Homo sapiens: one gene and its partners. The protein of the gene in region 2 interacts with the protein of the main gene of each other region in a biochemical or structural test. Each region holds a gene or a part of one and is shown on either strand. Other genes may lie near its edges.

Evidence for each region.
Region 1: the proteins of UBE2L3 (region 2) and TRIM13 form a complex in vitro, tested with the Homo sapiens proteins (one study listed by BioGRID).
Region 3: the proteins of UBE2L3 (region 2) and HERC6 form a complex in vitro, tested with the Homo sapiens proteins (2 studies listed by BioGRID).
Region 4: the proteins of UBE2L3 (region 2) and ANKIB1 form a complex in vitro, tested with the Homo sapiens proteins (2 studies listed by BioGRID, with this or other methods).
Region 5: the proteins of UBE2L3 (region 2) and RNF20 form a complex in vitro, tested with the Homo sapiens proteins (2 studies listed by BioGRID).
Region 6: the proteins of UBE2L3 (region 2) and RNF168 form a complex in vitro, tested with the Homo sapiens proteins (one large-scale study listed by BioGRID).
Region 7: the proteins of UBE2L3 (region 2) and RNF14 form a complex in vitro, tested with the Homo sapiens proteins (2 studies listed by BioGRID, with this or other methods).

What each region holds. Positions count from the first base shown.
Region 1 is NC_000013.11:50,006,751-50,011,066, reverse strand, and holds part of TRIM13 (E3 ubiquitin-protein ligase TRIM13), read right to left. Parts: intron 1-4,316. UniProt on the Homo sapiens protein: Endoplasmic reticulum (ER) membrane anchored E3 ligase involved in the retrotranslocation and turnover of membrane and secretory proteins from the ER through a set of processes named ER-associated degradation (ERAD).
Region 2 is NC_000022.11:21,573,754-21,578,069, reverse strand, and holds part of UBE2L3 (ubiquitin-conjugating enzyme E2 L3), read right to left. Parts: intron 1-4,316. UniProt on the Homo sapiens protein: Ubiquitin-conjugating enzyme E2 that specifically acts with HECT-type and RBR family E3 ubiquitin-protein ligases.
Region 3 is NC_000004.12:88,381,424-88,385,739, forward strand, and holds part of HERC6 (probable E3 ubiquitin-protein ligase HERC6), read left to right. Parts: intron 1-1,761; coding exon of another isoform or gene 1,762-1,797; coding exon 1,798-1,957; intron 1,958-4,075; coding exon 4,076-4,152; intron 4,153-4,316. UniProt on the Homo sapiens protein: E3 ubiquitin-protein ligase which accepts ubiquitin from an E2 ubiquitin-conjugating enzyme in the form of a thioester and then directly transfers the ubiquitin to targeted substrates.
Region 4 is NC_000007.14:92,395,331-92,399,101, forward strand, and holds part of ANKIB1 (ankyrin repeat and IBR domain-containing protein 1), read left to right. Parts: intron 1-1,034; coding exon 1,035-1,146; intron 1,147-2,392; coding exon 2,393-2,529; intron 2,530-2,881; coding exon 2,882-3,619; 3' UTR 3,620-3,771. UniProt on the Homo sapiens protein: Might act as an E3 ubiquitin-protein ligase, or as part of E3 complex, which accepts ubiquitin from specific E2 ubiquitin-conjugating enzymes and then transfers it to substrates.
Region 5 is NC_000009.12:101,553,774-101,558,089, forward strand, and holds part of RNF20 (E3 ubiquitin-protein ligase BRE1A), read left to right. Parts: intron 1-214; coding exon 215-332; intron 333-920; coding exon 921-1,070; intron 1,071-3,610; coding exon 3,611-3,823; intron 3,824-4,316. UniProt on the Homo sapiens protein: Component of the RNF20/40 E3 ubiquitin-protein ligase complex that mediates monoubiquitination of 'Lys-120' of histone H2B (H2BK120ub1).
Region 6 is NC_000003.12:196,479,501-196,483,816, reverse strand, and holds part of RNF168 (E3 ubiquitin-protein ligase RNF168), read left to right. Parts: coding exon 1-47; intron 48-4,316. UniProt on the Homo sapiens protein: E3 ubiquitin-protein ligase required for accumulation of repair proteins to sites of DNA damage. Acts with UBE2N/UBC13 to amplify the RNF8-dependent histone ubiquitination.
Region 7 is NC_000005.10:141,975,027-141,979,342, reverse strand, and holds part of RNF14 (E3 ubiquitin-protein ligase RNF14), read right to left. Parts: intron 1,041-4,316; coding exon 513-1,040; intron 1-512. UniProt on the Homo sapiens protein: E3 ubiquitin-protein ligase that plays a key role in the RNF14-RNF25 translation quality control pathway, a pathway that takes place when a ribosome has stalled during translation, and which promotes ubiquitination and degradation of translation factors on stalled ribosomes.

The DNA of each region.
Region 1 (4,316 bases), on a different chromosome or scaffold from region 2:
CCCAAATTGGGGTTGGAGTACCGGTTTCACTTAAGAATGTTCTTGATGCAGCAGTAAAAATTATTCATTTTATTAAGTCTTGAGCCTGTGTACAGTTTTTTAATATATTGCGTGACAAAATAGGCAGTACGCACAAAGCACTTCTGCATACCGGCAGATGTTGTCTGGAGAAAAAGCACTTAAGTGAAGAGCGGCAAGTTAAACCAGCTGCTTTTTTTCATGGAACACCATTTTTACCTTCTGAAAGAACAAATGATAAACTATGGCTATTCAGACTTAGCTACCTGACATTTTCTGGGGAAAAAAAATGAGCTTGCTACTTCAAAGAAAACAATTGACAGTATCTCTTGCTAATGAAAAGGCTGGGTTTTATGTAAAAATTAGAATTTTGGAAAACATTTGATATTTATGAGCCTGACAGCTTCCCATTAATTAAAGACTTTTATGATGAGATGGGCAGTGATATTAATGAATGTGAGGATTTTCTGAGGGGAAAGGAGTACTGTATAATGAAATGTGTCAATATTTGGAGATCTGCAAAACACAGTGAATACTATTTCAAGTCACTAATGCATGTTACAAATCAGGCATGGGTAAAAGATCCATTTGAAGTTCACGAAAGACCAACAGGTTCATAAACAATTTCAGATTCCATACTCCAACAAAGAAACTAGCACTTGCTGAGTTTTTGTATAGTATCACAAGAAGATTCAGGCTGGGAGCAGTGGCTCACGCCTGTAATCCTAACACTCTGGAAGGCTGCAGAGAGTGGACCGCTTGACCTCAGGAGTTCACGACCAGTACGGGCAACATAGCAAAACTCCACCTCTACAAAAAAAATACCAAAAAAATTAGCCAGCCATGGTGGCATGCGCCTGTAGTCCCAACTACTCGGGAGGCTGAGGTATGAGAATCCCTTGAGCCCAGGAGGCAGAGGCTGCAGTGAGCCGAGATAGCACCACTGCACTCCAGCCTGGGCAACAGAGAGAGACCTTGCCTCAGGAAAAAAAAAAAAAAAAAAAAAAAGATTAAATTACCTGAAAAGGCTATTTAAATAATATTCCTTCCTTTACCAACTACATATCTGTGTAAGCCTAGATTTTTGTGTATTTCCTTTTCTTTTCTTTTTTTCTTAAGAGATGGGGTGTCTCACTCTGTCACCCAAGCTGGAGTGCACTGGCATGATCATAGCTCACTGCAGCCTTGAAATACTGGGCTCAAGTGAGATCCTCCCAAGTAACTACAGACTGCAGGTGTGCACCACCATGCCTTGCTAATTTTTAGTTTTAGTGTTTTTTGTTGTTGTTGTTTTTTTTTTTTTTTTTTTTTTGAGACGGAGTCTGACTCTGTCACCCAGGCTGGAGTGCAGTGGTGCTATCTTGGCTCACTGCAACCTCCACCTCCCGAGTTCAAGTGATTCTCCTGCCTCAGCCTCCCAAGTAGCTGGGCCTACAGGCACATACCACCACACGCAGGTAATTTTTGTATTTTTAGTAGAAACGGGGTTTCACCACGTTGGCCAGGCTGGTCTTGAACTCCTGACCTCAGGTGATCCATCCGCCTCAGCCTCCCAAAGTGCTGGGATTACAGGCGTGAGCCACCGCGCCTGGCCGTGGATTTTTTTATAGACAGGGTCTCACTATGTTGCCCAGGCAGGTCTAGAAATCCAGCCCTCAGGCAATCGTCCCACCTCCACCTCCCAAAGTGCTGGAATTACAGGCATGAGCCACCACACCCAGCCTTCTTCGTTTATTTCAACCAAAATAATATATTCCAACAGGTTAAATACAGAAGCAGACAAAAGACTCCAGCTGTCTTCTATTAAATAGCCATTCATTACAGGCCTCTATTGCAATGCCATGCTTCTCTTAATTTTGTTTTGGAAAATAGTTATTTTCCTAAATTATTTGTTAACTTGTAATGGGTTTATCATTGTTATTTTACGTGAGTATTTTTTAAAAATTGTTTTAATTTCTAATAGAGTAAATATCGACAGTACAAACATAAAGTTCTTGGGATTCTCTTTTTTTTTTTTTTTTTTTTTTTGAGACAGCTTTTTCACCCAGGCTGGAGTACAGCAGTGCAATCTCAGTCCCCTGCAACTTCTGCCTCTTGGACTCAAGCCATCCTCCTGCCTCAACCTCCAAGTAGCTGGGACTACAGGCACGCACCATCACACTCAGCTAATTTTTTTTTTCTTTGTAGTTTTTTTTTGTAGAGATGAGGTCTCACCATATTGCCTAGGCTAGTCTCAAATTGCTGGGCTCAAGTGATCCTCCCACCTCAGACTGCCAAAACACTGAGATTACAGGCCAGGATTCTCAATTTTTAAGAGTGTAAAAGTGTCCTAAGACCAAAATATTTGAGATCCCTAATACAGGCAATACCATTTCTCAATGCAGGTTTATTATTTTTAATTCTTATTTTGAGAGACAGGGTCTTGCTCTGTTGTCCAGGCTGGACTACAGTGGCCTAATTATAGCTTACTGCAGCCTCAAACTTCTGGGCTCAAGCAATCCTCCTGCCTCAGATTCCTAAGTAGCTAAGACTACAGGCATGCACCACCACGCCTGGCTACTTTTTTTTTTGTAGAGACCAGGTCTTACTAGCTGGCCTCAAGCAATCCTCCTGCCTCAGCCTCGCAAAGCACTGAGATCACAGGTGTGAGCCACTGCATCAGGCCACAAGTTTATTTTAAATATACATTCATCTCTATAGTTGTAAAACCAAAGAGTACTACATATTTCTACATTCAGTTTACTCAGGGATATATGCACATATCACATTATCAACAATATCACATTATCAACAATAACATATGACTTAATCGGTAGGCCATCTATGATAAAAAGTGAATACTTGGCCGGGCACGGGTGGCTCATGCCTGTAATCCCAGCACTTTGGGAGGCCGAGGCAGGCGGATCACGAGGTCAGGAGATCAAGACCATCCTGGCTAACACAGTAAAACCCCGTCTCTACTAAAAATACAAAAAAATTAGCTGGGCGTGGTGGCAGGCACCTGTAGTTCCAGCTACTTGGGAGGCTGAGGCAGGAGAATGGTGTGACCCCAGGAGGCAGAGCTTGCAGTTAGCCGAGACAGCGCCACTGCACTCCAGCCTGGGCAACACAGCAATACTCTGTCTCAAAAAAAAAAAAGCGAATACTTTTTTAACAGTAATTTCAACAGCCATACATGACTGGACTATATCTAGAAGGTAAACAGTATTTAAAGGACAAGCTGAGCTTGCAGGGTTAATTAGTTTATGGCTTTTTTTTTTTTTTTTGAGACTAAGTCTCACTCTTGTCACCCAGGCTGGAGTGCAATGGTGTGATCTTGGCTCACTGCAACCTCCGCCTCCCGGGTTCAAGCAATTCTCCTGCCTCAGCCTCCAGAGTAGCTGGGATTTACAGGCACCTGCCACCACGCCCAGCTAATTTTTGTATTTTTAGTAGAAACGGGGTTTCACCATGTTGGCCAAGCTGGTCTCAAACTCCTGACCCCAGGCAATCCACCCGCCTCCCAAACTGCTGGGATTACAGGGGTGAGCCACCGTGCCTGGCGTTTTTTTTTTTTTTTTGAGACAGAGTCTCACTGTTGCCCAGGCTGGGGTGCAGTGGTGCAATCTCGGCTCACTGCAATCTCTGCTGCCCAGGTTCAAGCAATTCTCCTGCCTCAGCCTCCCGAGTAGCTGGGATTACAGGCACCGGCCACCACGCCCGGCTAATTTTGTTGTATTTTTAATAGACACGGGGTTTCACCATCTTGGACAGGCTGGTCTTGAACTCCTGACCTCATGATCCACCTGCCTCAGCCTCCCAAAGTGCTGGGATTATAGGCGTGAGCCACCACGCTGGGCCCTATTTTTTTGGGTTTTTTTTTTTTTGAGACAGAGTCTCACTTCGTCACCCAGGCTGGAGTGCAGTGGCACAATCTCGGCTCACTGCAACCTCTGCCTCCCGGGTTCAAGCGGTTCCTCTGCCTCAGCCTCCTGAGTAGCTGGGAACTACAGGCGCCCACCACCATGCCCAGCTAACTTTTGTATTTTTTGCTGGAGACAGGGTTTCACCATGTTGCCCAGGCTGGTCTCAACCTCCTGACCTCGGGTGATCCGCCCACCTCAGCCTCCCAGAGTGCTGGGATTACAGGTGTGAGCCACCACGCCCAGCCAGTTTATGGTTTTATAGTAGATTGTAAGATACATGTATTTATAATACATAACATAGGGAGAACTAAAGCAAAGATTATTCTGTCTCAAATTTAGTGTCATATTGCAAAAAAAGGTGTAATTAGCTGATTTTTCTGAAAAATCCTTTGT
Region 2 (4,316 bases):
TGTTCTTAATGAGAGGCGTGCTGGTGTGAAACACTTTTTTATAAGCCATCTCAGACGGGTTCAGAGGCTATTCAACCTCTGAGTTACACCCTCTTCCTCACCGTGAGTCAGGTGGTCTCCTCTCAGAAAGATGGAGCATCACATGAGCCCTGACATTAGCCCATGAGCCCTTTGACATTAGCACCTGCTTTGGTTGCAGATGTGCCTGCTGGGATAAGGGCTGTCAAAAGAGAATGTTCCCCGCTCTGCCTACCTATGCTAGGAAAGTAGGGACAAAATCTGACAAGAAAGTGAAATACAGAAAACTATAATCAACACAGCCCTGGAAGTGTTAAAAACCAAAACAAACAAAACCCAAACAGCCACCGAATCTGAAATGAACCCTCTTCTTCTCCATCTTGTCCCTTCCTCAAGACCAAAAGCAACCATCTAAAAAGCAGGAGCAAGGCCCAGAGAGCAGGGGACCTTGATGTTGGGCCTGGCTCCACCACTGACTTCAGCCTCCTCATCTGTAAACAGAGGCCACTGGTGTCTGCTTTCCAAGATCCCTCACACAGCTCTGGAATTCTAGAGTATGTGTGCAGCAAGGGTCAGAAGGAGAAACTACACAGCCACCAGAAGCAACTTTCTTAACTTTCTGCTTCAAGGTTGAAAGAGAAGACAAGGGCTGGGTGCGGTAGCTCACGCCTGTAATCCCAGCTATTTGGGAGGCTGAGGCAGGCGGATCACCTGAGGTTAGGAGTTCACGACCAGCCTGGCCAACACCATGAAACCCCGTCTCTACTAAAAAATGCAAAAATCAGGCCAGGCACGGTGGCTCACGCCTGTAATACCAGCACTTCGGGAGGCCAAGGTGGGTGGATCATGAAGTCAGGAGATCGAGACCATCCTGGCTAACATGGTGAAACCCCGTTTCTACTAAAAATACAAAAGATTAGCTGGGTGTAGTGGCGAGCGCCTGTAGTCCCAGCTACTCGAGAGGGTGAAGCAGGAGAATGGCGTGAACCCAGGAGGCGGAGCTTTCAGTGAGCCAAGACTGTACCACTGCACTCCAGCCTGGGCAACACAGCGAGACTCCATCTCAAAAAAAAAAAAAAAATTAGCCAGGCATGGTGGCACACGCCTGTAATTCCAGCTACTCAGGAGGCTGAGGCAGGGAGAATTGCTTGAACCCAGAGGTGAAGGTTGCAGTGAGCCAAGATCGTGCCACTGCACTCCAGCTTGGGCGACAGAGCGAGACTGCGTCTCAAAAAAAAAAAAAAAAAAAAGGAAAGAGAAGACAAGAAGCAAGAATATTACATCTGAGACCTCAACTTCTCAATCAAGAGTTGCTTTCGGCCAGGCGCAGTGGCTCACATCTGTAATCCTAGAATTTTGGGAGGCCGAGGTGGGCGGATCACAAGGTCAGGAGTTTGAGACCAGCCTAACCAACATGGTGAAACCCCAGCTCTACTAAAAATACAAAAATTGGGGGCCGGGCATGGTGGCTCACGCCTGTAATCCCAGCACTTTGGGAGACCGAGGCAGGAGGATCATAAGGTCAGGAGATCGAGACCATCCTGACTAACATGGTGAAACCCCGTCTCTACTAAAAATACAAAAAAATTAGCTGGGCATGGTGGCGGGCACTTGTAGTCCTGGCTACTCGGGAGGCTGAGGCAGAAGAATGGCGTGAACCTGGGAGGTGGAGCTTGCAGTGAGCCGAGATCGCACCACTGCACTCCAGCATGGGCGCCAGAGCAAGATTCCATCTCAAAAAAAAAACAAAAAAAAACAAAAATGCAAAAATTAGCCAGGCGTGGTGGCGTGCGCCTGTAATCCCAGCTACTCAGGAGGCTGAGGCAGAAGAATTGCTTGAACCCGGGAGGCGGAGGTTGCAGTGAACCAAGATCACACCATTGTACTCCAGCCTGGGTGAAAGAGCGAGACTCCGCCTCAAAAAAAAAAAAAAAAAAAAGTTGCTTTCAAACCTCCACCCCTGCCCCAGTTCAGCACCTGTGGGAGCCTTCCATAGCACCTATGCTCATCTTTGGACACAGTGACTGTCACACTACACTGGATGTTTACAATATGCAAGGTAAATTTCTGAGATATTAGAAAGACAAATTTTGAGTTCAAGAGCTATTCAATTTTAAGCTGGGCACAGTGGCTCACGCCTGTAATCCTTTGGGAGGCTAAGGTGGGTGGATCGCCTGAGGGCAGGAGTTCGAGACCAGCCTGGGAAATGGAGAAACCCCGTCTCTACTAAAAATACAAAAATCAGCCGGGTATGGTGGCGCATATCTGTAGTTCCAGCTACTCGGGAGGCTGAGGCAGGAGGAATGGCTTGAACATGGGAGGCAGAGGTTGCAGTGAGCTGAGATGGTGCCACTGCACTCCAGCCTGGGTGACAGAGTGAGACTCCGTCTCCAAAAAAAAAAAAAAAAAAAAAAAAAAAAGCTATTCAACTTTGTTGGGAAAAGTAAACTTTTCTCTTTTTTCTTTCGAGAGTCTCGCTCTATCACCCAGGCTGGAGCGCAGTGGCACCATCTCAGCTCACTGCAACCTCCGCCTCCCGGATTCAAGCGATTCTCCTGCCTCAGCCTCCAGAGTAGCTGGGATTACAGGCATGCACCACCACACTCGGCTGATTTTTGTATTTTTTTTTTTTTTTTTTTAGTAGAGATGGGGTTTCGTCATGTTTCCCATGCTGGTCTCCTCAAGTGATCCACCCGCCTTGACCTCTCAAAGTGCTGGGATTCGGATATGAGCCACCACGCCCAGCCAAGTAAACATTTTTCTTTTTCCTTTTCTTTTTTTTTTTTTTTTTTTGAGATGGAGTCTTACTCTGTTGCCCAGGCCAGAGTGCAGTGGCATGATCTTGGCTCACTGCAACCTCTGCCTCCTGGGTTCAAGCAATTCTCCTGCCTCAGCCTCCCGAGTAGCTGGGATTACAGGCACATGCCACCACACCCAGCTAATTTTTTTGTGATTCTAGTAGAGACGGGGTTTCACCATGTTGACCAGGCTGGTCTCGAACTCCTGACCTCAAGTGATCCACCTGCCTTAGCCTCCCAAAGTGCTGGGATTACAGGTGTGAGCTACTGCGCCAAGCCAACATTTTTTGAGACAGAGTCTCACTCTGTCACCCAGGCTGGAGTGCAGTGGCACGATCTCAGCTCGCTGCAACCTCTGCCTCTCAGGTTCAAGCAATTCTTCTGCCTCCCCCTCCCTAGTAGCTGGGATTACAGGCACGCACCACCAGGCCTGGTTAATTTTTGTATTTTTGGTAGAGATGGGTTTTCACCATGTTGGCCAGGATTGTCTCAATCTCCTGACCTCATGATCCGCCCACCTCGGCCTCCCAAGGTGCTAGGATTACAGGCATGAGCCACCGCGCCTGGCCCCCAGCCAACATTTTTAAACAAACATTCACACAGCTGTCTCAGTAACTCTTTCTCCAACCTACAGAATAAGAGAGTACCACAGGTAAGAGAATGGGCTCTCAGTGATGAGGGTATGTCCAGGCAGACTGGCCCCAACCTGTCCCGAAAACACCTTTGCAATACCATCTCCTATCACTCCTCCAAATCCTCCCCTCCTGTCAGGCTGGTCACCTCCCTGCCCTGGAACATGTCTTGGTTATTCCCAATAATATCTACAAGTAGCTCACACTTACTATATGCCAGGCACTCTTCTAAGCAGTTGGTATATATTAACTCATTTAACCTTCACACACGGACGAAGTAACTAAGGCACAGAGAGGTAAAGTAACTTGCCCAGGGTCACTCAGCTAAGACATGGCAGGCCCAGGATTGAAACTCCAGAACCTGAGCTTTTAACTGCTATGCTGTAGTCTTCCTCTAAACAGCTTTGCTCTGAGCAAAAGCCCCTTCCTCCCTTTCTTATAGGGGTGGGGGGCTTGGGGAGGTTAGGCTTATTTATGTCCCCCAAGAACAGGCATGATGAAGCTGGCCACAGGAGATACATGCAAAGCCCTTTCTGAGTGAGTGGCATGCCACTTCTCCTGGATAGCTGTAGCATCCAGGAGATATGTAGATCTGGCCCCTCAACCTAAAGGCTATGGCATCTCTGCCACCTGTCCTTAAATCCATCAGCACTGCCCTCAGTGACCCCTCTATAGAGAGGTAGCTCACCCTCCAAGGCTGGCCTGGCAGAGGGAGGTCTCCTAGCTCTGGAGGAACCAGGTGCACTGGACATGCCAATCTGGGGTAAAATCAAGCCAATGCCTCAACACTTCTGGAAAGCATCTCAGGGGCTGGCCTAACTAAAACCCAAAGCGGGACGGCACAAGGTCAGACGCAAGCAGCACTGGG
Region 3 (4,316 bases), on a different chromosome or scaffold from region 2:
ATGATGAACTCAGGGAAAGTGACTAGAAAATATATGGGAAAATCTAATGGAAGATAAGGGTTATTTTAATTGACTTGTTTATGCAGGCTCACCTCAGTGCCAAGTCTTCATCTTAGGTGACCCTTCTCTTCTTTTTTTTTTTTTTTTTTTTTTGAGATGGGGTTTTGCCCTGTCACCAGGCTGTAGTGCAATGGCACTATCTCGGCTCACTGCAACCTCCGCCTCCCCAGTTCAAACGGTTCTTCTGCCTCAGCCTCCCAAGTAGCAGGGATTACAGGCACTCACCACCATGCCCAGCTAATTTTTATATTTTTAGTAGAGACGGGGTTTCACTATGTTGGTCAGGCTGGTCTCAAACTCCTGACCTCGTGATCCACCCGCCTCGGCCTCCCAAAGTGCTGGGATTACAGTTATGAGCCACTGCGCCCGGCTGACCCTTTTCTTGGTGCCAGAGATGGGAGCTTCTCACAAAAGGATATTTATGACCTACTTTTAGGTAGATAAGAAGAGAGCAGAGACCTCTTCCTGCATCTGTTGATTCTCAATTGCCTTCAGCTCAAATTCTTAAAGTAGCATGTTTTCAGGTCTTATCACCCTCATTTGGAAATGAAGGGCAACATGATACTTAACCCCAAATTGTTCTCTAGAAAAATGGTACCAATTTCTATCTTTGTGAGTGCATGAATCTTTGGGAAATTTTAACCTTGCATAAATTGACAGTAAATAGTTGAAAAAGATAAGATTACAAAGATAAAAGGAAAAACAAAATCTTAAATGTTGCAAAAACTTTACTGGTATGATGTTCTCAACTCCAAACCTCTAATAATTCAGAGACAGACACCTTGGGAAAGCAGTTTAGGTTGGCTTGTAGGGAAATGTGATCCGGTTTTCATTTGTGGGCATATTTAGGGCCTCCATAGGGGCATATTTTTCACTTTTCATTGTAAGAGGATCCAGCATCTGCCTCTCACACTCATGAGGTAGGCTCCCTTCCAATTTCCTTCTGAGCAAGGGATTCACTGCTTTCAGTGTTTAGGGTGGGAAGACAGAATAGCAAAATGGAGGAGATCCCAACTTTTTTCTGGGTCTCTTTATTTTGCTAGGTTTTGCTAGAGAAACATTTGGTCATGTGTCATAGTCCCTAGAAGTTACCCCCTCCGTGATGCCTACTCCTTTAAATAACAGCCATTAAAAGATAGACTTGGGTAATTGAATGTTTTTAAGAGTCAATTTGAACATTCAGCAGTTCATGAATTGAGCAGCACCAGACCTCAAGCAGTTGGGCTCCACTAAGGGAGGTGCAAGGAGATGCCAGGGGGAACCTTTGATAACGTGTTCCAGGAAGCAAGACAAAGAAAATACTTGATTGGTTAAAGTGGAAAGTCCCTTGTTTGAAGTAGTCAGCAGTTTCTGGTTGGTAAAGTCTCTAGTTAGATGTTAGTTGGTGGTTTCTGATTGGTTAACCTTAAGTTTCATTTTCCTAGGCTATGATCAATCACTCTGAGTTGGGTTTTGGTTTGCTTAGGTAGGAACCCAAGGTGCTGGAGCCATCTCAACCTGATAGTCTCCCTGTTGATTATTTTAACAGAGCTGTATCCTATAAAGACAGGGTAACATACATTGAATTTACTTCCTTCAGACATTTAGAATGGACTTAAGGTCTTGATTCAAAAGACCATTGGAGGAGACAAGAAATCTGGATGATCCTTCTTTTTGAAGAAAAGTGCTGTCTTAAACTTGTGTTAAATTAATAATCTGCAGTGGTGGTTGGGGGGTGTTTTGTTTTGTTTCCCAAAGAACCAATTCAGGCATTGGAAACCCTAATTGTTGATCTCGTGAGCTGCGGGAAGGAGCACTCCCTGGCTGTGTGCCACAAAGGAAGGGTCTTCGCATGGGGAGCTGGTTCTGAAGGGCAGCTGGGGATTGGAGAATTCAAGGAAATAAGTTTCACACCTAAGTAAGTGTTTCAACCCACTCCTTCATTTATTCAATATATATAGTACCATGTGCCAGGCACTGTGCAAGATGCCAGGATACAAAGACGACTATGACAGGCCAGCTGCAGTGGTTCATGTCTGTAATCCCAACACTTTGGAAGGCTAAGGTGGGCAGATCACTTGAGGTCAGGAATTTGAGACCAGCCTGGTCAACATGGCGAAAGCCCCTCTCTACAAAAAAGACACAAGAAAATTAGCCGGGCATGGTGTCAGGCACCCGCAATCCCAACTACTCAGGAGGCTGAAGCGGGAGAATCGCTTGAACCTGGGAGGCAGAGGTTGCAGTGGTGCTGGGACAGCGCCACTGCACTCCAGCCTGGGCAACAGAGGGAGACTCAGTCTCAAAAAAAAAAAAAAAAAAAAAAAAAAAAAAGACTATGACAAACACAGTTCCTAACCTGAAGGACTACAGTGTAGTGAGGGAAGAAGGGAGGAAAAAACCTACAACACCAATTATTATTTAATTAGAGCAGAGTGAAATGAGATGTGACCCTTTGATCTTAATCTTATCTCTTGGAATATAACTGTGGGGGCCAACTTAGACCTCCAGAGTGGGTATAAAGACCACTGTAAAGTAGAAACATTTGAGCTGCAAAAGATACAGATATAAATCTTACCTGAACTTCCTTTATCATACTAAAACAGAGCCTCCTGAAAATGCAGTTCCCAGTAACTTCCTTGAGTGAGAGTTTCCTGGGAATTCAGTTGTCATTAAGATAGACCACCCATTACTATTACCATCAAAAAGCCCAATAGAACCTTCTATACTTTCCCACTGAAGTCCCAAAACCCCGCCTTTTATTAAGGTGACATATATAAAACTTTACTTTGGGATATTCTGCAATAGCGAGCATGCTTGTAAATAACCTTTGTCTTTTCTCTTGTTAATCTATTGTCAGTTAATTTGCAAGCCCCCAAATATTGGACCAAAGGTGGAAGAGAAGTTTTTTTCTCAACACAACCTTTTGGCTTGTCATAAACCACTGGGCCCTAACATTTTACTTAGTAAAGTGGAGGGAAATATCACATTTCCTCACAAACAACTTCCCAGGACAGATATGACAAGTAGTTGGCTCTGGATTATGTGTTTATGAATTACATACTTAGGGGATTTTCAAACGCATGCTTTTTAATATTAGGAAATCACCTCTTGTTACCTCTTCTGGTCATTAAATTCTAGAAGAGATCAATTTGACTTGGGGAAATGAGCATTGAACTTGGAATGAAAAGACCAGAATTTGAGTCTGGTTCTACAGCATCATAACTATTTGACCTCTTTGAGTTCCATTAGATTCACCTTATGAAATTGCTCATAGTGGCCAGGTGCAGTGGCTCACACCTGTAATCCCAGCACTTTGGCAGGCCAAGGTGGGCGGATCACCTGAGATCAGGATTTCGAGACCAGCCTGGCCAACATGGTGAAACCTCGTCTATACTAAAAATACAAAAAAAAATAGCCGGACGTTGTGGTGCATGCCTGTAATCCCAGCTACTTGGGAGGCTGAGGCAGTAGAATTACTTGAACCCGGGAGGAGGAGGTTATAGTGAGCCAAGATCGCACCACTGCCCTCCAGCCTGGGTGACAGAGCAAGACTCCGTCTGTGAAAAAAAAAAAGGAAATTGCTGATAGTTATCTGGTTTTGATCCACAAAAATGGCAATTTTGTATGATTTAACCTAATGATTTCTTCATTAAATTAGGGCTTAAATTAGATGATGAAGTTGTTGGTGTTCTATAAATTCTAAGGCCCTATACTATATATGCAGAAAAAATTTATTTCTCTTTTAGGCTATTAAGTGTAGAATAAAATTAGTATATTAGATATTGCATTAAAGTCCAATAGCAATGGCTTTTGCATTTATATACTGTTTTGGATTCTGTCCTATAACTTGGTACATGTTAATGTCATGTTAAAAACAGTTTGAGGGCTTTGAAATAAAGGTACTATAGAAATACAAGAAAATAAAATAGTTTTCCTGGACCAGATGTATTATTTGAGATACTTTTAAATATCTGTAGTCCACCGGACAACTCGCTCTAAATAAGGATTAATCAATTTTGTATTATTTGTATTATAGGAAAATAATGACTCTGAATGATATAAAAATAATACAAGTTTCCTGTGGACACTACCACTCCCTGGCATTATCAAAAGGTAAGAAACACTTTTTGGATCTGAGTGTGAGTAGGAAGTAATTTTTTGAATAGGAATTATAGCTGCTGATTTTTAATGCACTGGGGTTCATTTAGAAGTTTTTCATTCCCCAGGTTTCATAAGATATATTGTTTTCCTATTTTTTTCTCAAATTTCTTGGTCCT
Region 4 (3,771 bases), on a different chromosome or scaffold from region 2:
TGGCTTATATAGAAAAGAAGCTAAATAATCATCTTATTTTAAAGCTAACCTAACATTTGTCTTTTAATCTAGTCATTTGATTTGTGAATATGATATGTAGTAGTCCCAAAGAATAGAAAATCCAACAATCTGGCAAGTACTTAACAGTGTGTGTTATTTTTTACTGTTGTTCCTTTTTTTCTTTTTCTGTTACATATATCCCAGTCACTTTTTTTTTTTTTTTTTTTTTTGAGATGGAGTCTTGCTGTTGTTGCCCAGGCTGCAGTGGCACAATCTCGGATCACTGCAACCTCCACCTCCTGGGTTCAAGTGATTCTCCTGCCTCAGCCTCTCGAGTAGCTGGGATTACAGGTGCCACCACCACGCCCGGCTAATTTTTTGTATTTTTAGTAGAGATGGGGTTTCACCATGTTGGCCAGGCTGGTCTCAAATTCCTGACCTCAGGTGATCTGCCTGCTTCGGCCTCCCAAAGTACTGGGATTACAGGCGTGAGCCACAGCACCCACCCCTGGTCACGTTTTTAAAGCCACTTTCATATCCAGTTTCAATGGCTCACACCTGTAATCCCAGCTACTTAGGAGGCCGAGCAGTAGGGATTGCTTGAGGCCAGAAGTTCAAGACCAGCCTAAGCAACATAGCAAGACTCTGACTCTAAAAATAAAAAAATAAAAAATAAAAAACCTCCCTTCAAGGAAAGCCTTACTTAAATGAGTAATATGGTTGTAGTATTAATTAGATAACAAGATCCTTGAAATCATCAGGCATATAAAATAGGGCTGTTCTAATGTAGCACTGGGGCTTGCAAGTATTCCTAATTTATCTAGGCAATTGTAATGACTGTTGAAAACTTTCTTTTTCCATTTTACCTTTTGTGTTTCCTTGGCATGGCAAAACCTGATGTTTCAGCCAAGTGATTTTATAAGATGTGTATAAAATCACAAACTTTTTCCCCTGGAAAAAAGTGTGTACTTTGTTTTATTTGCATTTTAAAAATTGCATGCTCTCTTGTATTTTATAACCTTTGGTTTATGCAGGAATATGCTGAATTTCAGTATCGGAGGAGGCACAGACAACGTCGTCGAGGAGATGTTCACAGTCTACTCAGTAATCCTCCAGACCCTGATGAGCCAAGTGAAAGCACTTTAGGTAAGTCCTTGCATTGAGTATGGTTTAATCTCATAGCTCCCCTGAATTTATCCTTCAAACTGGCTGATGTAAATTTTTGTGAACGAGTTTGTCATTTAGATATACAATAAATATGCAGATGTTTCTGTTGTGACAGGACACAGAAAATCAGAGGAGTTAGGAGCATGGTCTGTGGAGTTAGGCAAACTTGGATTCATGACCCCATCTCTGCTGCATATTAGCTGTGTAACCTAGTCAGGTCACAACCTCTCTAAGGTTGTTTCCATATTCTAAAGACACAATAATAATAGTGCCACCTTATAGGCTCATTGTGAGTATTAAATTAGATAATGCATCTAAAACACTTAAGCACCTAGTGAAGCACTCAGTTAATTGTAGTATTGATTGATACTGTTTTGTGTTCATGGAATATTTGTCTCCTAGCCTTAGTTGTCCTGTAGACATTATTTAAAAGAGAGAGAATTTCTGGCATTAGAGATAAATTATTTTAATTATTCAACTTTTAAATGTTAAATTATTAAGTGAAAATCTTCTGACTATAATGTCAGGATCAATGGGACTAAAGATTTGCTCTTCAGACTATTGTAATTCCCAAATTATTTAATTTTAAGAAATCTAAAAATGAAAAACGTTTATTAGTTATTGCTTAACAAAAAAAGAGAAATGGATAGTAGCACTTGCATTTATGAATAGAACTATATAGACTGCAAGCAAAAGTGTAAAAAAGTCAGCCAGGCACGGTGGCTCATGCCTGTCATCCCAGCACTTTGGGAGGCCAAGGTGTGCGGATCACAATGTCAGGAGATGGAGACCATCCTGACCAACATGGTGAAACCCTATCTCTACTGAAAATGCAAAAATTAGCCAGGCATGGTGGTGCACATCTGTAGTCCCAACCACTCGAGAGGCTGAGGCAGGAGAATCGCTTGAACCCAGGAGGCAGAGGTTGCAGTGAGCCAAGATTGCGCCACTGCACTCCAGCTAGGTCGACAAAGCAAGACTCCATCTCAAAAAAAAAAAAAAGTAAAAAGTTACGGATTTGAAGTGATAGTATCATATATATATTATTCTTCATGGTAAGACAAATATGGATGAGAAATCCCAGAAAGATTAAGTGAACATGTCAACACAGGTTTTCCCCAGCACTGAAAGAGAAATTGCCCATCTAAACAACCAGATGTATGAAAAAAATAAATAAGTCTTATTTGTCACTAAATTGTCTTTGGTACCAATTGCTTTGAAACAGATATTCCAGAAGGCGGCAGCAGCAGCCGCAGGCCTGGCACATCCGTGGTAAGTTCTGCATCTATGAGTGTGCTGCACAGCTCTTCCCTGCGTGACTACACCCCTGCCAGTCGCTCTGAAAACCAGGACTCTCTTCAGGTAGCCTTTCTGAACAGCCTCATTGCCTGTGCTTTTACTCTTTCTCTGCTGAGTGTGGTTTCCTGTTGTTACTTTCATCGCTTTCCTATTTCTTCCTTCCATTCTAAAATCTTTGTTTTAAAGATGTGCTGCAGGAAAAGATATTCCTATATTTTAGATTTATTTTAAGGTATGTTTTTTTTTTCCTTTAGCATGGGCATGGAGAAAAATACAAGATTTTAGTAGATAAAATAATTTTTCTGTATAAATAAAATTAATAATCTGTTGGTAAAGGAAGAATGGTAAACCTGATTGAGTTAAATCAGTTTTTTTCAGTCAAATTTTAAAGTGGTTTTGCTTTCTGTTGCTTCAGGCTCTGAGTTCCTTGGATGAAGACGATCCCAATATACTTCTTGCAATACAGTTATCACTGCAAGAGTCTGGGCTGGCCCTCGATGAAGAAACTAGAGACTTCCTCAGTAATGAAGCATCCTTAGGTGCGATAGGCACTTCTTTACCTTCCAGGCTGGACTCTGTCCCCAGAAATACAGATAGCCCTCGGGCTGCATTGAGCAGCTCTGAGCTTTTGGAACTTGGTGACAGCCTCATGAGACTAGGAGCAGAGAATGACCCATTTTCAACTGACACCCTGAGCTCACACCCTCTCAGTGAGGCAAGAAGTGATTTCTGTCCCTCATCTAGTGATCCTGACTCAGCTGGCCAGGACCCCAACATCAATGACAATCTTCTCGGCAACATCATGGCTTGGTTTCATGACATGAACCCTCAGAGTATTGCCCTGATTCCTCCAGCAACTACAGAAATCAGTGCAGATTCCCAGCTCCCCTGTATCAAAGATGGGTCAGAAGGTGTGAAGGATGTGGAACTGGTGCTGCCAGAAGATTCAATGTTTGAAGATGCCAGTGTCAGTGAAGGTAGAGGAACCCAGATAGAAGAAAATCCTTTGGAAGAAAATATTCTGGCGGGGGAAGCAGCATCTCAAGCTGGTGACAGTGGTAACGAGGCAGCCAACAGAGGAGATGGTTCAGATGTTTCAAGTCAAACACCTCAAACCTCAAGTGACTGGCTTGAACAAGTACATTTAGTGTGAACTGCACACATCTGGGCTCTAAATGAATTACAGGTACAGATGGTATGCTAGGTGGAGTATGCTTGATAGAGACTTTGATTCACTTAATTCCAACTCAGTGATAAACCACTGACATTAGGGTTGAATACAGAGAAGTTCCCTTGAATGGTAGC
Region 5 (4,316 bases), on a different chromosome or scaffold from region 2:
GAAATGATTCATTTTTATACAGCTTACTTTTCTGTACTTTCTAAGCATATCCAAAAGTCTTTTGATAGTCTGTGCAAAATTTTATCTTTTAGGTGTGATATGAAATGTAAAATGAAACTGTTTTAAAATATTCTGCTCAATCAAAATTCCCTTGCTCTGATGACCTTTATTTTCTTATTACATTGTTCCCCTCCCTCTACTACGCCTGTCATAGGAAGGCACAGGAGAGCCAAAAGGAGATGAAACTATTGCTGGATATGTACCGTTCTGCCCCAAAGGAACAGAGAGACAAAGTTCAGCTGATGGCAGCTGAGAAGAAGTCTAAGGCAGAGGTATTCTAGTCTGCTATTACCTGTCCTTCTGGTTAAAATCTTCATTTGTGGGATTTTCCTTTATACTTGCCAACGATATAATTTCTTTCTTTATCTTTAAAATAAGTGTTTAAGTGCAACATTTTCTGCCTTTTCAAAGACCATCTGAAGTAGAGATTTTAAAACTCTCCATAGGATGGTAAAATATATCTGAATTACTGGGGTTATGAGTAGGCTTTCCAAAGTATGTATTCCTTGTTTTTCCTATGTAATTCATTGCTACAGGGATAATCTTTTTCATTACTTTTGGGAGGAATGTCTTATGCTCTTAAAATTTTGAGGCCTAAAAAAAAGGATGGGAACCACTATTCTAAAGAAAGTTACCTGTGCACTTCTCAAAAGTGTTGCTTATAGAAGCATGTCATAGTAGAATGGAGTGATGTTAAAACAGATGGTGTTATGTAATGTTTTAGTATATTATGTACCTTGTTCTATAATTCTGTAAAGACTCTTTTGGTATTATGAACCTTCTATCTTTGCACAGTATTAATTGATTTTTGAAAATGTGTTATAACTTTTTATTTTTGTGCAATTCCTTTCCTCTTATAGTTGGAAGATCTAAGGCAAAGACTCAAGGATCTGGAAGATAAAGAGAAGAAAGAGAACAAGAAAATGGCTGATGAGGATGCCTTGAGGAAGATCCGGGCAGTGGAGGAGCAGATAGAATACCTACAGAAGAAGCTAGCCATGGCCAAGCAGGTGGACTCACTTTCTTTATTTAATTGACTTTTTGAGTAAATGTTACTTGACAATAAGTTATTGCCAGTGAAATTTGCTTTTTTATTTTGGTCTTTTTTTGATTGTTAATGTGTATTTTTCCTTTTTGTGTGTGTGTTTTAATTCTTACCTTCAAGTCTTTTATCTTTCTGTTATTTTGTTTTGTGTATTTGTGAGGCAAGAAATTTACTTTTATTTAAATGGACATTTATTGAAGATCTAGTCTTTCTCTGCTGTTGTTCAGACAGTTATTGAAGATCTAGTCTTTCTTTGCTGACCTGGAATTAAGGGTTATAGTGAATATAAAATGAAAAATAAGACATAAGATTTTATATACATTATGATTACAAATATATGAAACTAAGAAAACTATGCTTATAAATATATATCATTATATATTTCTATGTAGTACATATACTACACAGAAAAACTATGCTTATAAATATGTGATTTATATATAATAAGGATATAATCTATTAACCAATATAATAACATTGATTAAGCAGTATGTTAACTATGGCTATTTTGGGGTCATAGAACTATAGAGATTGTTCTCCTCCTTATAATGAATATGTATGTATTTTTAAATGCCAGGGAATTTTTATTAAAATTCAATAATAAAGATACTGAAAATGCTTGAAAAAACCATATATGTATTCTCTGTTAGTACACCTTCATTGTTTCTAAGAAATAGCAAAATAACAGTGAGATGGAGTAGGTTTAATGGTAAGTTGATCATGAAGTGCCTTGAAAAGAAGAACTTCATTAGATCCTATACACATTCCTTTTGTTAACAAGTGTAATTTTGGGCTGGGCGCGGTGGCTCATGCCTGTAATCCCAGCACTTTGGGAGGCCGAGGTGGATGGATCACCTGAAGTCGGGAGTTCAAGACCAGCCTGACCAACATGGAGAAACCCCATCACTATTAAAAAAAAAAAAAAACAAAATTAGCTGGGCTTGGTGGCGCATGCCTGTAATCCCAGCTACTTGGGAGGCTGAGGCAGGAGAATTGCTGGAACCCAGGAGTGGAGGTTGCAGTGAGCCGAGATGGCGCCATTGCACTCCAGCCTGGGCAACAAGAGCAAAACTCCATCTCAAAAAAAAAAAAAGTGTAATTTTGACTTTTCTTAAATCTGGTAAATGCCACTTTTTTTTTTCTTCCCTCTCTCTTAAGGTAATTATCAGGAAATTATACTATTATAGGTTCTAGAACAAGTAAAAAGAAAGACACTATGTTCTTGTATACGATGACTATCTTAAAAATGTTCAGTCTTTCTAAGTTTATGTATTAATATAATGTGATCTCATAAAAGTGCTTTTTTTAAGTTTTGCTTTTGTTTATTTTGGTACTAGAAGAACTGGTTTTAAAGTACATGTGGAGAAGTAAACAAGAGTAACAAGAGAAATTGAAAAAGAACAGCACTGGGGTCTCTTCCATATATTAAAACATAAAGTTTCTGTAGATGAAATAGCTTGGGACTACTAGACAGGCTATTAGAACTGAATAGAAACTTGAGAAGTAGTTGAAAGTACACATGATACTTATTATGTGCTAAATACATAGTTTTAAATCAGTGGGGAAAAGAAAAACTGTGACATGTGATGGGACAAAATTAAAAAAAATAATGTTAGAGAAAAGTTAGATACATACTTGAATACACTAGGATGATTTCCAAATGGATCATAGATATGATATTTTAAAAAATGCATCCATCAAAAAGCTAGAAGAAAACCATTAAATTCCTTTATAATTTGGAGTGGAGACCTTTCTATGAATAAAAGGCTAGAAAACATGAACAAAAAATTGATAATTTTGAGTTATTTTTTAAAATGATGCAAAACTTCTACACTGCAAAAAACACTGTTAGCAAAGCCAAAAGATTAAATGACAAAAAGTAAAAAATATTTTTAACTTTTATTACAAAGAAGGCTTATCTGATACAAAAAAAACTCTCCAAAATAGGGAAAAAAACTCAAGAATCCAGTGGAAGAATAGGCAAAAGAAATGAGTTGGTTATGGAAAGAATACAAGTGGTCTTAACCATATGAAAAGATGCTCAGTCTCACTTAAAATGAGATAGATATAAAGTAAAGCTATTATTAGATACCAGTCTTCACCTATCAGATTGTTACAAGGCTTTAGATGTTTGCAACTGCTGGAAATCCTGTAGATCCAGTATTTTAATTGTGGAAAAGCATGAGAAAATGTGAGAGGTTATGATGGAAGTACTCTTAACCAATTGCTGCTTGATCCGTTTGTCTAGATTAAGGTAAATACAATTATTGTCTAATTTAACTGACGTTGAGTACAGATCAACTAATAAGTATCAGACCAACAATTGGTGCCAGTGACTTCAGATAATAGAGCTTCTGTATGCCTAGTGACAAAACACAACTTCTTAAAACTCTGTCACTAAATTAATTTATATCTAAATGAACAGTGGGAAAATTTAGTTTCCTGTGCTCTTCCATTGAAGTTGGAAGATTCTTCTAAAATCAAATCTCTTCCTTCATCCTTTAGGAAGAAGAAGCACTCCTCTCTGAAATGGATGTCACAGGCCAGGCCTTTGAAGACATGCAGGAGCAAAATATCCGTTTGATGCAGCAATTGCGGGAGAAGGATGATGCAAATTTCAAGCTCATGTCAGAGCGTATCAAGTCCAATCAGATCCATAAGTTGCTTAAAGAAGAGAAGGAGGAGCTGGCAGACCAGGTGTTGACTCTGAAGACTCAGGTAATTAGGATGAGTAGAGCTTTCTATTCTGTTGAAATAGGGTGCTTTCTACATGATGATATAAGTAAAAGAATGATTATTGTGGCACATTTTTGTGATTGGAAAAAAATTTGAAAACTAAATGTTCATCATTAGGGTATTGGTAAATAAATTATACATCTCTACTGTTATTCCTACAAAAGAGTACAGTGTACTTGTCAAATATGGATCTGCTAATATGGAAACATGTCTGAAATAAAATCAAGTGACGTGTTTTGTTATCCTTTTTGCGTTAAAGTATATGTTTACTTGTGTTCCTGTGCTGTATATTTTAAAAATTTCTGGAAGGCTGCATGAGAAACTGTTAGAATTGTTACTTCTGGATATTGGGATGAGTTGTGGGTGAGGTTAGGAGGTATGTGTGATTTTACTTTTTTTTTTTTTTTTTTAAATTTCCATAGGTTTTGGGGAACATGTGGTGTTTGGTTACATGAATAAGTTCTTTAGTGGTGAT
Region 6 (4,316 bases), on a different chromosome or scaffold from region 2:
GAAAAGAAAAGTAAGAACAAACAAAGAAACACTGGAGATATTCAGAAGTAAGTGAACATGACTATGAATTATTTGTTGACCTCCTACTGTATGCCAGTGTTTTCTGTTCATATAGACTACTACTGATTCTCAAAGTTTGGTCCGTGAACTTTGTATGAAAATAGTCTGAGGTTGAGGTAAATTGAAAAGGAGAGAGCTACTCACACAGCTTCCTCTTGGCTTCTCACTCAGCCACTTACTGTGGCAGATTCATACTTTTATCTTACTGCCTCAGGATTTCCAGTTTTCTCAAAGTGAACCATTGGATTCCTCTTTCTCTTGGTTTAAATTCAGATGAAAAAAATGGGTCCCAGATAGGCTTATCTTCACTGAAAGAGTTTACAATTTGTCATTTCTTCTCTATTACACAAAATGCATGAGTCAGGTAGACAAAGGTGGCGTGATTGAGTTTCACCACAACACCCCTCCAGGGTCAGGTGCCAGGTGGAGTTGGTGGCTTTACGCAAACATCAGCTTTCCCATGGTAACTCACAGTTGGAAAAGTTTAAAAACCACAGTCTAGACTTGAAAAATACATAAGGACTTCTGGTTCAACTGAGGAAATATGTGCAGGTAACTCATCTCCTTCCAAGATTTGTTGAAATTTTGTATTTGAGGTGGGAGGAAGCTTAGGAGAAGAGAATGTTAAATGAGGGAGGTACTATTAAAAAAAAAAAAAGATGTGACAATATCAGTGTCGCCAGTACTCATAATGTGCAAAGTAAAAATGAGAAAACCGCTAAAATGCAGAAGTATTTCATATTGATACAATATGCTGTTTAAGGCTATAACTCATGAATCTTTATATATCTAAATATATACTTTGAAATACATAAAAATAAAAAATTACCAGAGATACAAGAAAAACTAAGGATTTAAAAGCAAAAATTGAGAAACTGATGGATTAAAGTTGTAACAATATTAAAAACAGATAAAGTCTGTTTTCTAGAATATATGAAAACTCTTATAACTCAACAACAGAAGACAAATAATTAAAAACTGGACAAAGGGACTTGAGTAGACATTTTTCCCATGATGTACAAGTGGCCAATAAGTACACGAAAATATGTTTAACATCATTAGTTATTAGGGAAATGCATATCAAAACCACAGTGATATAGCATTTCATACCCATTAGGATGGCTATAATCCACAAAAAGGGAAAATAATAAGTGTTGACAAAGATGTGGAGAAATTGGAATCCTTGCGCATTGCTTGGTAGGAATGTAAAGTGGTATCGTGGCTGCAGAAAACAGTTGGTGATTCCTTGAAAAGTTAAACGGAATTAGCATATGACCCAGCAATTCCACTCCTAGGTATGTACCCAAAAGAATTGAAAGCAGGTATTCAAACAAATACTTGTACATGAATATTTGTGTCAACATTATTCAAATAACCGAAAGGTAGAAACAACCCAAATGTCCATTAACAAATGAATGGGTAAACAAAATGTGGCATTCCATTTTATGTGAATTACACCTCAATTCAAAAGTTTAAAAATGAATAACAGGATTATATAGTTTTAAAATTAAGAAAAATTTCTAAACAACTTGTTGATTAAAGAGTAAATTTTGTTGGAAATACAGAACTGAAAATATGCATGAAAACTGGTATGTGGCTAAAGTGGTATTTAGAAGGCTTTACGTGCCGTATCAGAAAAGAAGAAAGGGCAGCCAGGTGTTGTGGCACGTACCTGTAATCCCAGCTACATGGGAGGCTGAGGCAGGAGGATTGCTTAAGCCCAGGGAGTTTGAGTTTGGGACCAGCTTGGACAGCATAGCAAGATCCTGTCTCTAAAAAAAAAAAAAAAAAAAAGCCAGGGACAGTGGCTCATGCCTATAATCCCAGCACTTTGGGAGGCTGAGGTCTGAGGTGGTAGGATTGCTTGAGGCCAGGAGGAGTTCAAGACCAGCCTGGGCAACATAGTAAGACCCTGTCTCTACACAAAATAAAAAAATTAGCCAAATGCAGTGGCACATGCCTGTAACCCCAGCCACTTGGGAGGCTGAGGTGGGAGAATTGCTTGAGCCCAAGAGGTCGAAGCTGCAGTGAGCTATGATCATATCTCAAAAAAAAAAAAAAAAAAAAAAAAAAACGCAGCTGAAAACGTATTTAAAAAGACAATTCCAGGAATACATTGCTGGTTTAATGGTAGAAAATGAATCACTGTAAGTTATTCAATTAGCTGTATAAATATGAAATACACGAGATGATAATTCTTAATGAAGTGGTAACAGAAAGAAACTTTCTTAACCTGTTGAAGGATATCTACCAAAATCTTACATCACATATCATACTTCATAGTGGAACATCGAAATTATTTCCTTTTTTTTTTTTTCCAGACAGTCTTTCTTGCCCTGTCACCCAGGCTAGAGCGCAGTGGTGCGATCATGGCCCACTGCAACCTCAAACTCCTGGGTACAAGTGATCCTCCCGCCTGGGCCTCCCAAGGTGCCTGGATTACAGGAGTGAGCCGCCACGCCCCGCCATTCCCCTTGTAAGGTCAGGAATACGCAAGGGTGGCCTGCTACTCTCCACCTGCATTCAGACTCATGCTGGAGAGTTTAGTCTGCACAGTAACACAATAAAAGGAGATAAAACATATCAGCCTGGAAAGGAAGGAAAAAGCAGCTATCATTCTTCAGAGGCGGTATAATTATCTATGTAGAAAACCCAAAAAGTCAGAGGTACATTTTTAGAATGAAGAGTTTAGCAAGGTTGCCAGATATAAAATCTGTACAAAAAGTCAATTGTAAAATGTAACTTTAAAAATACTCTGTCGATAGTAGTATCAGAAAATAAAAGTACTTAAAAATAAATGTGTTAAAATCTGAGGCAAGCATGGTGGCTCATGCCTATAATCCCAGCACTTCGGGAGACTGAGGCGAGAGGATTGCTTGAGCCCAGGAGTTCAAGACGAGCCCGAGCTGCACAGGGAGACCCTATCTCTTAAAAAAAAATTAAAAAATTAACCAGGCATGATGATGCACACCTGTAGTCCCAGCTGCTCAGGTGGCTGAGGCAGGAGGATCACTTGAGCCTGGGAGGTTACGGCTGCAGTGAGCTGTGATTTTACCACTGCACTCCAGCCTGGGCAACAGACAAGACCATGTCTCAGAAAAATAAAAATCTGTACGACCCGTGGAGAAAATTGTATTATATTAAATATACAATATTCATGGGTTAGAAGATGCCTAATACTACAAAATGGTCAGATCTCCTCAGACTGATCTATAGAGTCAGTGCAATTCGAATCAGAATTCCAACTTTTCAAATTTTTCTTTTGAGACGGAGTCTCGCTCAGAATCACACAATACTAATCAATAAAGTGTTTAGAGATGCAAAAGTGTGGCAAATCTGTTTTAAAAAGTAAGATATAAGAAACTCAGGATAGTATGAGGTGGGAGATGACGAGGCCCCATAGGAGACTTTCAAACCAATGATTTCTTTTCCCTTCAACCAAGTAATAAGCATATGGGCTTTCATGGTAATACAGATTTTTAAACTTTTTAGAAGAATAACACATTTTTTTGTTTTGTTTTTAATGGACCACAGAGCAGCAAACATATATTTTAAAGTGCACCAGTCTTCGGCACCATAAGACAGGGTAAAAAAGAAAAAGTAAAAAATTTAAAAAGACGGTGCACCAATCCTAAGTATACTTTCTGGTGAATTTTTGTGTGTGTATAAACCACCCACCAGATGAAGACGGAATATTTACAAAGGTTTGCTTGTGCCCTTTCCCTTTCCAGTCAGTGTCCCCCTCCCCGTGACCGTGCTGTACTGTGATTCTTACATGTATTGTATGACTGTTCTCTCATAAACTTTGTTTTCATGAGGCAGACTTGGAAAGATCTTAAGACATTAGTGAAAAAAGCAAATCACAAGCCGGGCGCAGTAGCTTATGCGTGTAATCCTAGCACTTTGGGAGGGTGAGGCAGGCAGATCACTTGAGGTCAGGAGTTCAAAACCAGCCTGGCCAACATGGTGAAACCCCGTTTCTACTAAAAATACAAAAAAATTAGCCAGGCGTGGTGGCGGACGCCTGTAATCCCGCTACTGGGGAGGCTGAGCCAGGAGAATTGCTTGAACCTGGGAGGCGGAGGTTGCAGTGAGCCGAGGTCACACCACTGCACTCCAGCCTGGGCGATAGTCCGTCTCAAAAAAAAAAGCGTGAGGCTGGGTGTGTTGGCTCATACCTGCAATCCCAGCACTTTGGGAGGCCAAGGCAGGTGGATCACTTGAGCCTAGGAGTTTGAGACCAGCCTGGGCAACAT
Region 7 (4,316 bases), on a different chromosome or scaffold from region 2:
TGGAGGCAGAGGTTGCCGTGAGCTGAGATCATGCCCCTGCACTCCATCCTGGGTGACACAGCAAGACTCCATCTCAAACAAAACAACAACAACAACAACAACAACAACACCACCACCACCTAAGTAGGCTGTACTTCTGCTGAAGTCTATAAAAAAGTTGGTTAATCATTCTAAGAGACGTCCCCTTCAGATGCCAACCTCACACAAGAATAAGCTAGTGATTCCCCAAGGTTTATGGGATCCTACTAGCAGATATACAAAGTAAATTATCACAATTACTTAATAACTACTTTAACACTCATCCTTGCCCACTGCAAGGCCAAAGGAAGCATTCCATTTGCTTAAGCAGTAGACTAAGACCATAGCATTTTTAATGGATACAGCAAAACAACTTGTGGGCTGGCTCCAAGGCCTCGGACTGCCCCATGAGCCCTATCAAGGAAGTTCCTGAGATGATATCTCCATTTATGGAAGAGAATTAGGAGGCAACCATCAGCAGGGTAAACAGTTACCTGACCAGGAGTGGCCACCGAAGGGCACTTTGGTTCTGGGCAGTTGAGGCATTGAACCTGGCCATCTCTGATCTGGATTTCAAAGTAGTCCTTCAGACAGGCTTTGCAGTACACATGCCTGCACTCCAAGAAGTACATGCATTCACTACCCAGCTTCTCACAGAAACAGATACTGCACAGGAACAATTTACTATTAAAGCATTTTATCTGCTGAGCTTGATCAAAGTCCAAGATTTCCTGGATCAGATTTGACAGTGATTCCACATCCTGCACTGCTCTCTCATCCACAATTTCCTCTTGGTCTACATCAGATCCAGCAGCTCCTCCAAAATCTAGCTCTGTGTTGGGAGAAGCTTGAGCTGTCCTTCTCTGCACTTTTTTCTGAGAACCAATCTTGAGCTCAAAAGGAGAGACAATATTCAAGTATGCTAGGGTCTCTTCCTTAAGAAATTGCATCCAGGCAAACAGGACCACGCTGCCACGGTGTTCTTCCCATAGGTTGTCTAAGTGCTTGCATAGAGCAGATAGCTAGGAGAAAACACATGAAGATGTTGGTGAGTTTGGAAAGATGATGCTGCTGCCAACTCCTGGTTTCCCTAGAAATCTTTTCCACTTGCAAGTTAGGCCCTTATTCTAACACTATTTTTTACTGCTGTGATACACTGTGCTACATACAAAACAGTACAAACATTCTTACTGGAGCACTTCTTAAACTATTCGGCAACATGAGCCAGAGTAGAACATAAAGTCAGAAGCAAGAAGTACCACGAGAAGAAGAGAAATAGCAAGACTCCGTAAGGTAGAGAAATAGCTGTACATTTTAGCCACTGAAATGGAAGACTTTTTTCTGTTCTTTAATCTTTTAGTACTGCCATATACCTCATGTAGGACAAAGAGATCTAGTTCTAAAAATAAACTATTTTTCTTCCATTAGGAGTCCTAGCCCTGTTCGTATCCTAGAATAATGGTTAGAAAAAGAATAGTTTAAAAATACTATCCAAGTTTTAAAATTAATTCTTTCAGTTTTATCAAAAAGTCAACTCATCTGAAACAATCACTAACAGAATTCAACCTCAGAGTCCTTGTTCAGATTTACAAGCTGCTTTTAAGTAAGCAATCTGGGCTTATATCAGATCCTGGTTAATGGAGGGAAGCTGCCTGATATTGACCCTGGTCCTAATCACAAGCCCTCAGCAAGGTTTGGCAGCCATAGAGAAAGCTTACACTTCCTAAGCTAAGCAACCAAAATTAAATTATTTGGAATTTTCCTCTTTAAAAGTGGTCTGTTCAATTTGAAAGGCAAATGTTGGAGAATTTTCCATTAGAAATATAAAATATTTTTAACTAGAGCACAGGAATTATAAGCAGCTTTTCTTTTTTAGGTAAACATCCAAAAATATGCCTTCCAGATGGCAAACAAATTTTGTAAATTTAAATGACAAATGAAAAGGGACCAGATTTTCTGTTTCTTACACTCTGTGTAGTGCCACTGACTAAACCCTGCATAGGTACTACCTTAAATACTTATTGATGAGTTAAGATTGAACAACTAATGATTTTTCACATTTGCATAAATATCCTTATAAATCAACCATGCTTTTGAGAAATCTGCTAACATCTGTAAAATGTGATAAATACTAAAAGGGAAGCTATGAGTGCTGTGTGAGCTACCAAGTCCTATGAAGAAGCCATTCTCCAACCTCTTTTCTACCCCAGTCCCTTCTCAAGAGAGGCAGCTGGGGCTGGGCGTGGTGGCTCATGCCTGTAATCCCAGAACTCTGGGAGGCCAAGGCGGGTGGATCACCTGAGGTCAGGGGTTGGTGATCAGCCTGGCCAACATGGTGAAACCCTGTCTCTACTAAAAAATACAAAAAATTAGCCAGGTGTGGTGGCGGGCGCCTGTATTCCCAGCTACTTGGGAGGCTGAGGCAGGACAACCACTTGAACCCACTAGGCAGAGGTTGTAGTGAGCTGAGATTGTGCCCCTGTGCTCCAGCCTGGGTGACAGAGCAAGACTCCATCTCAAAAAAAAAAAAAAAAAAAAAAAAAAAAAAGAGAGAGAAAGGCAGCTGGAATGCATGTAAATGGAAGGGGGACGGGAAAGAGACTGTGTAAGTATATTGGGGGAGGAATAAGGAATAAGGTTTTAGAAAACTAAAACCACTTCCCTCTGTCTACCCGCCCCAATTCAGGGAATGACAGCTCTATGTGTCAATTTCACCATTAACAGGTGAGAGTCATAATGCCAAGGAATCAGGGTACAGCAACAAACAAGAACTGAACCAAGAAGGAATATAAGAGACCAATTAAAATGTTAATTATATGCATAAACATTTATTTGATTAAGAATTCTACTGTAATTTTAGCTGTAACACATAAAACAACTCTCTTCCCCAGCACACACCTCCGCCCCCAAATCCAGCATTAAGTAGATGCTGGTTGGCTGGAATCTGAAACCACAACCACGCATCCAGTTAATCTGTCCCTGTTTTGTGCGTGTGTGTGCATGCACGTGCATGCACGCACATGCGTGGATGTAAAGTATGAAAAGCTCTCTGGTGAAATAGGACTATGAAGATCTAAATAATTAAGCCAACTATCAGTGGCCTAAATGCCAAACAGTCTTGATATTCCTGGACAAATCAACTGTCTTGCATCTGTTGCCTCTGGCACAGACATTAGAATGTAAAGTAATACTCCTTTTTATTCTACCTGTGTTATCCTTTTTAAGGTTTAATTTTGCTTTTAAACCATAAGCTCTAGTTTGTGAAAGTACTCTCACTTAAAAGATTAGATTGGTGGATGGGGAAATGAAAACTGTATGATCCAAAGAGAAAAACTAATGAGCTATTCCTTGAGGTCAGCAACTCTGACATCTTTTGTCTTTTTCTTTTTTTTTTTTTTTTGAGACAGGGTCTCTGTCTGTCACCCAGGCTGGAGTGCAGTGGCTCAGTCTTGGCTCACTGCAATCTCTGCCACCCAGGCTCAAGTGATCCTCCCACCTCAGCCTCCCAAGTATCTGGGATTACAGGGACGCACCACCACACTTGGCTAATTTTTGTATTTTTTGTAGAAATTGGGTTTCGCCATGTTGCACAGGCTGAGCTTTTGTCTTAATACACATTAGTCTATTGATCTTCATTATGACTTCTAGAAAAGCAGCTGCTGATTCATTATCTCTCCCAGAATGCTTTATATTATTTATATTTAGCTTCAAGCCATATTTATGTCTCAATCAAGAGTTGAGGTTGTTACTAGAAAAGTATATATAACCCAGAGGAAATGAGGTGCTTAACATAAGGCCTCAAGCCTTACTGAGATATCTACAGGAACTATACACATTTCTACTTGTATGCATTTATGTCTACGTGATACCAGTTGACTGTTATTTGTTATTAATACAGATTTTTACAAAGAAAATCAGTTATTGTATTCACTCAGAAAATTTGCTTATTATAACTACATTAGCTCAATTTTTAGTCCTAATTACAATGGAATCTTTCATTTAAGGAATGGATAAGAAACTAAGAGAAAAGTAGTATCAATGTCTAAGGAAAATGAGGAAGACCTCTTAGTCTCCATTATAATACAGATTAAACAGGAAAATAGCAAGACAAGAAAAGAAATAATATACTTGATTAAAAATTACTCCTACTACAATTCATGATTGTTTTAATTACTGCCATTCCTTTTTAAAACACCAAACATTTTCAATTTCTTAACATCAGGATTCACCAAGGCAAGGGAAAAAAATTACAAAACCAAAGCCATTTGTTTTTCATGCACTGAATTCAAGATCTTTAA